2 separate regions of the Homo sapiens genome follow, and region 2 is linked to region 1. Evidence: fine-mapped expression QTL. A gene starts in region 1. The other region holds a variant in brackets. All regions are shown on one strand. Distances are between the middles of the regions. Region 1 holds the start of RADIL (Rap associating with DIL domain). Region 2 overlaps RADIL (Rap associating with DIL domain).

Region 1 (3,004 bases):
TATACAGAGGGTCCTGTATTCCTGGCTCAGTTCTTGTCTCTACCTCCAGCAGCCTGACCTCTCTGCGTCTCTATTTTCTCATCTGAAAAATGGGAGTATTACTGAACAAAAGGGTTCTGCGCTTGCTCTGCTAGAAGCCAATCTTGATCAGGTGCAGAGGTTCATGCCTGTAATTCCAGCACTTTGGGAGACTGAGGTGGGTGGATCACCTGATGTTAGGATTTCAAAACCAGCCTGGTCAACATGGCAAAACCCCGTCTCTACTAAAAATACAAAAATTAGGTGGGCGTGGTGGTAGGTGCCTGTTAACCTTAGCTACTCGGGAGGCTGAGGCAGGAGAATCGCTTGAACCTGGGAGGTGGTGGTTGCAGTGAGCTGAGATCACACCACTGCACTCCAGCTAGGGCAATAGAATAAGACTCTGTCTCCAAAAAAAAAAAAAAAAAAAAAAAAAAAAAAAGCCAATCTTACTGCATTAAGTTTTTGAGACAAAAGCTTTTTTTGTCCGTATTGTGAGTTGATCAATAAGGAGACAGGAGCCTGGCTCAAATCTGTCTCTCTGTGTTGACTTTGAGGCACTATTTTTTATTAGAAAAGGTTTAGGAGGTGGACTTTAGGATTAGCAGGTGATAGGTGGAGGAAAGGGGAGGCCTGGAATGTCTCAGACATCTCTGTCTCACAAGAATTGATGTGAGCATTAAGTGAGGTGACCTAGGTAAAGTTGCCTAGGGCCTGGCACACAGGTGGTCAATAAATGTCTGTTCCCACACTCATCAATGTCTGCTCCGACCTCCATCGCGAATATGGGGTCATGACTACGGAAATCATACCACGATAGCTGTCCACAAAAAGGTTCACTCCCGAGGCCCACATTCTGCATATTGATATTCCGAACCACCTGAATCTCCCAGGTCTAGCCCACATTCCTCAAAGGGAAAACCCCAGCCAAAGTGCCGAGGTCACGAGCTGCTTTTTAAACAAGTCCCCAGGGAGAGCAGTTGGGGCCAGAGCCCCAGAGCTGACCTGGTCATTTTTTTGCATAATTGTAAGCAGGAATGCCATGACCTGATTTGTCTTTTAAAACTCTGGGTGGGAGACAGATGGTAGGGGAGAGGAAATTCCTCCCTTGTTCCTTTTCGATGTCTTAGAAGATGTTTATTAATTGGGGGCACAGCTCTACCCTCCCCTACACCCACTCACTGGGCTACTAGAAGGTGCTGTCTCGAAATAGCCCACCCAACCGCAGGAGCCCAGAGCCCACAAGCAGCTCAGGGACTTAGAACTGGTCCCACCCTTCCTCCGGGGACCCCCCCTCCTTAAGCTGCAGTCTGTGGGTGGGCTGCAAGTCCCGCCTCTCCACAACCAGCCCCACCCCTTTCTTCAAAACCCCGCCTCTCCGGTGAGGCCCCGCCCCCTCGAGGCTGCATCCCCGTCCATTGGGCGGCCGGCAGGAGGCGCCAGAGCACAGCCCGCCTTTTCTAGCAGGTTGGCCCCGCCCCTCTCCTGGAGACCCCGCCTCCTCGAGGCTTTCTTTCTGCCTATTGGGCGCCGAGGCCCAGCTCCAGCCCACCTGTTCTCCCCCGCCCCACCCTTTGTGGCCCCGTCCCCTTGAGGCCCCGCCCCGCCCGTTGCGCCGCCGGCAGGAGGCGCCGCGGCACGCGCGGGTCTGGGCGCCGGCCCCAGCCAACGGCGGGTGGGAGCAGCGCGGGAACGTGGCGGCGCGGCGGGTTGTGCCGGAGGTGAGTGTGGGGTGCGCGAGGAGTGACTGCGGAACCGGGGGTGGCTCGTAAGGGGCGCTGCTCGGCCGCTGCCGGGGACCTGGGGCGCGGAGGCCGCGGGGCGCGCTCGGGGACACTCCCGGCCGCTGGTCGGGGCGCGGAGGGCAGGTTTGCCCAGTTGCCATGGGAACCGACTGGCTGTCGGGCCCCGGCCTGGACCGGGGGGCGGTACCCGGAGGCCGGCTAGCGCGGGCAAGGGCGGCCCAGCCTGCGGGGATCCGGGGGTCCGCGCTGCCGACCCCCGAGAGCTCCTGAGCCTGGCTGTCCGCGTGGGCCCCGGACCCCCAACTCCAGGGGACTCTCGGCCCTCAGTTTTCCCGGCTGTGCCCTGGAGGGGGAGCTTCGTCCGGGGCGCGCAGCGGGGGAGCGGGGCGCAGCGGGGGAGCGGGGCGCAGGGTTCCGCGCGCTCTCCCACCTGGGCCGGCGAGACGTCCCCTGCACATACCCCGTCCCGGTTGCAGCCCGATCCCCACTCGTGCGCCAGCTCAAAGCATTGTTTCCCGGCTATTTATGTACCATTTCCAGCCCCTCGACAAATACTGCATCCAAGATAACAGATGCTGAGCCGAGCTCCTGGGGCCTCGCAGGAGGAGCCTGTTGGTGGGGTTGGCAGGGCCCTGGCGGGGCTGCGGACCATCCTGCCCTGCCCTGTCGCCTGTCAAGTGTTTGGCTAATCTGAATTGCACAGAAGAATCTGATTGCTCGTGTCCCGCGGTTAATATAGGCCACCTCTTGTGCATTCCAGACAGGAACCAGTCTTGAAAGTCCCTTTTGCTGGGGGGCAAGTCGGTCTCCTCTCCAGCAGCTAGCAGGTCAGAATTAAATCTGATTGAATTATGTTTGCATTTGAAAGCGTGGCTCGGGCTGGGGCTGTAAAGATAGGATTCATGGAAGGAGGGGAGAGAGCTGAGTGTGTAAAGTCTGCGCTTCGTTTTCCCTCCTGCTGGAAATGATAATGGGTTCCACATTGTCCTGTTGGAGCAGAGAGGTCGCTCCACCCATGTCGTCAGCGCAGCACTGACCTCACTCCCTGTACTCGCCGCTGGGACTTGAGCTTGTTTTTCATCAGAAACTGGACCCTTCCTTGAGAACAAGAGAAAACATTCTCTAAGAGCAGCACCAGCCAGCGCCCCACACCCTCGCTGTCCGAGCCCTGCGCTTTCCCCAAGTATTTGTGTCACAGAGGAGCGAATGGGGCAGAAGAGGCCGGTCGCACTTCCAGAAAA
Region 2 (2,500 bases), 50 kb after region 1:
TTCCCGGCCAGCCCTGACCTGGCCTGTCGCTGTCTCAAAGCTGGGTGTCTCCTGGGTCTCTCGTGTGCTCCTCCGGGAAACCGACCTCCTCTGGGATGGGCCCGGACATCGAGGGGCGGGTTCCTGAGAGCCGTCGGGGTTCTGGTGTGGGGGTGGCCAGGGACATGGAGAGCCCGTGGCGACAGCATCCCAGCCACGCTGCTTCAGCAACCAGTGACTAGACACGGGACGCTTTTCCCGTGTGCTGCTCGCGTTACGCCTGCCCTGAGCGGAGTCTCTGTTTCAGGACAGCCTGGTGTATGTGCTCAACCGGGACCGGCACACGGTGGGCCAGCGGACCCCCTCCAGCAAGCCCAGCATCAGCCTCTCAGCCCCCGACATCCTGCCTCTACACTGCACCATCCGCCGGCAACCGCTCCCGGACAGCGGCCAGGCCGCGGGGAGGCTGGTCCTGGAGCCCATCCCCGGGGCGCACATCTCCGTCAACTTCTCCGAGGTGGGGCACAGGACCGTGGTGCTGCACCACGGGGACCTGCTCTCCCTGGGGCTCTACTACCTGCTGCTATTCAAGGACCCCGCGCAGGCCCAGCCCCTGCCCGCCCGGGCCTTGGCGCGCCTCCGGGCTGTGCCGCAGAGCTGCCGGCTGTGCGGGGCCGCGCTCGGGGCCCGGGGAGCCGCCTCCCCTACTCAGGCCGCCCTGCCCCGGCGCCAGCAGCTGCTCCTGGAGTTTGAGCCCCACCTGGAGGACACGCTGCTGCAGAGGATCATGACGTTGATCGAGCCGGGGGGCGACGACCACAAGCTGACCCCCGCCTTCCTCCTGTGCCTCTGCATCCAGCACTCGGCCACCCACTTCCAGCCGGGCACATTCGGGCAGCTCCTGCTCAAGATAGCCAGGCTGATCCGCGAGACTGTCTGGGTCAGTGTGCTGGGGTGGGCGGTCTGGGTCCTGTGCCGGTCTGGGGGAAGAGGGGGCCCGGAGCTGGCCCCGGCTGGGAGGCGGGAGCGCCTCTATCTGACCCCCACGGTGCTGTGCTGCTGAGCGCAGGGCGGCCTTTCCCTGCCTGTCGCTGCCCCCCAGCCCCACAGGCCACCAGAAGCAGCCCCAGAACCCAAGGTGTCAGCTGCAGCCCTTTGCCCCTGAGGGTGGGGTTTGCGTGGGGTCCTAGGTCACCTCCTGAGCTCTGGGCTTGTACCCTCCCTGGGGTCCAGCTGGGCCCAGCACTGTCACGTGCCAGGAGTGAGCTGCCCCTGAGCCTGGGCACCACGAGGCCGAGGTGACATTGATAGCTCTCACAGGCCCCTGCCCAAGAGCCCCAGAAGCCCCTGTGTGTGCCGGCGCCCTGTGCTTGCTGCCAGGGGCCGGTTGAGCACATACCCGCTGGAGCCATCCCTGATCCGAGTTTGGAGGTGCAGGGCCCGTCACCTTTTGTGCGTTGACGAACTTTCCTCCAGGCCAGCCTCTCTCATCCCCGGCCCTGTGGACACTGTGGCAGGAGAGCTCCTTGCTGTGAGGCTGGCCTGTGCATTGCAGAGGATTCAGCAGCATCCC[C/T]GGCCTCCACCCCTAGATGCCGGTCACCCTCTGCCGCCCCGCCACACACACACACGCAATACACCCATGGCTGCAGGCATTGCCAATGTCCCCAGGAATCCAGTGTGGCCGCCAGTGAGCAGGACCGCCCTGGGCCCATGAGTGCTGGAACAGGCATCACACAGTCATGGCCCCCCGCTGGGCCCCACCCCACAGTGACTTGGCTCCCAGGGACCCGAAGGACAACTCGTAGTTGTTCAAGTTCGTTCAGAGACCCTCAGATCCTCGCTAGTCTGGGCCCCGCTTATCCCCGGCAGACAGGGGAAGGGGGAACCACTTGACTGTGTAGAAACCTTATCACTTTCTCATATCGAAATCCACATTTTAAATGTCTGAGACTTTTAAAAAGTAAAAGCCAGCTCAGGCTTCCCTGTCCAGATGTCAGTGGGAGCCGTCTCTGTGCACCGTGGGTGTTGTAATCTGGGTGTCCGTGCCTCTTCCCCTCGGGTTCCCGGCTTGGGATTTGATGGGAGTGCCACTGCAGCGTGCCCGTGTCCCCTCCGTGCAGTCATGGACACAGGGCCAGGTGATGTCCCTGTAGTGTGTGTCCACATCGTGGCCACTGTGACCGAGAGTTACCTGCTGGCCAGAAGTCATGGGTTTTCGCACGATCATTGTCATTTCCCGAGTCTCCTCTGCGCCAGGCACTTACTTGCAAACCAAACGCTGTTTAATTTCTTTATCACAACCACCCTGACGATGTAGATGCCACACCCCATGTCACAGCCAGGGAAACTGAAGCCAGGGGGCCGTAAGTCACTTGCTGAGGGACCCGGGTCCCAGCCTGTGTCCCAGCCACCTGGGGCTCGCTGTGTGGCTGGCCCACTCCCTGCAGCACACCAGGGCTCACCCTGCCCCTATGCTACAGGCTCTGAAACAGAGGCTCCCAGAGGTGAATTGCCTGGTCCA

The links.
Region 2: its variant is fine-mapped to the expression of RADIL in lung (TOPMed, PIP 0.91).

The regions. Positions count from the first base shown.
Region 1 is chr7:4,882,331-4,885,334 of GRCh38, reverse strand. It overlaps RADIL (Rap associating with DIL domain), which reads left to right and starts at 1,619. Exons shown (of 15, transcript NM_018059.5): 1 at 1,619-1,739. RefSeq lists a silencer at 1,588-1,807 and enhancers at 1,517-2,204, 2,205-2,893, 2,623-2,917.
Region 2 is chr7:4,833,026-4,835,525 of GRCh38, reverse strand. It overlaps RADIL (Rap associating with DIL domain), which reads left to right. Exons shown (of 15, transcript NM_018059.5): 4 at 287-919. Among named protein-coding and RNA genes, the nearest start is that of SNORD165, 3.2 kb to the left of the region's middle. The variant C/T (reference allele first, on the strand shown) is at 1,553.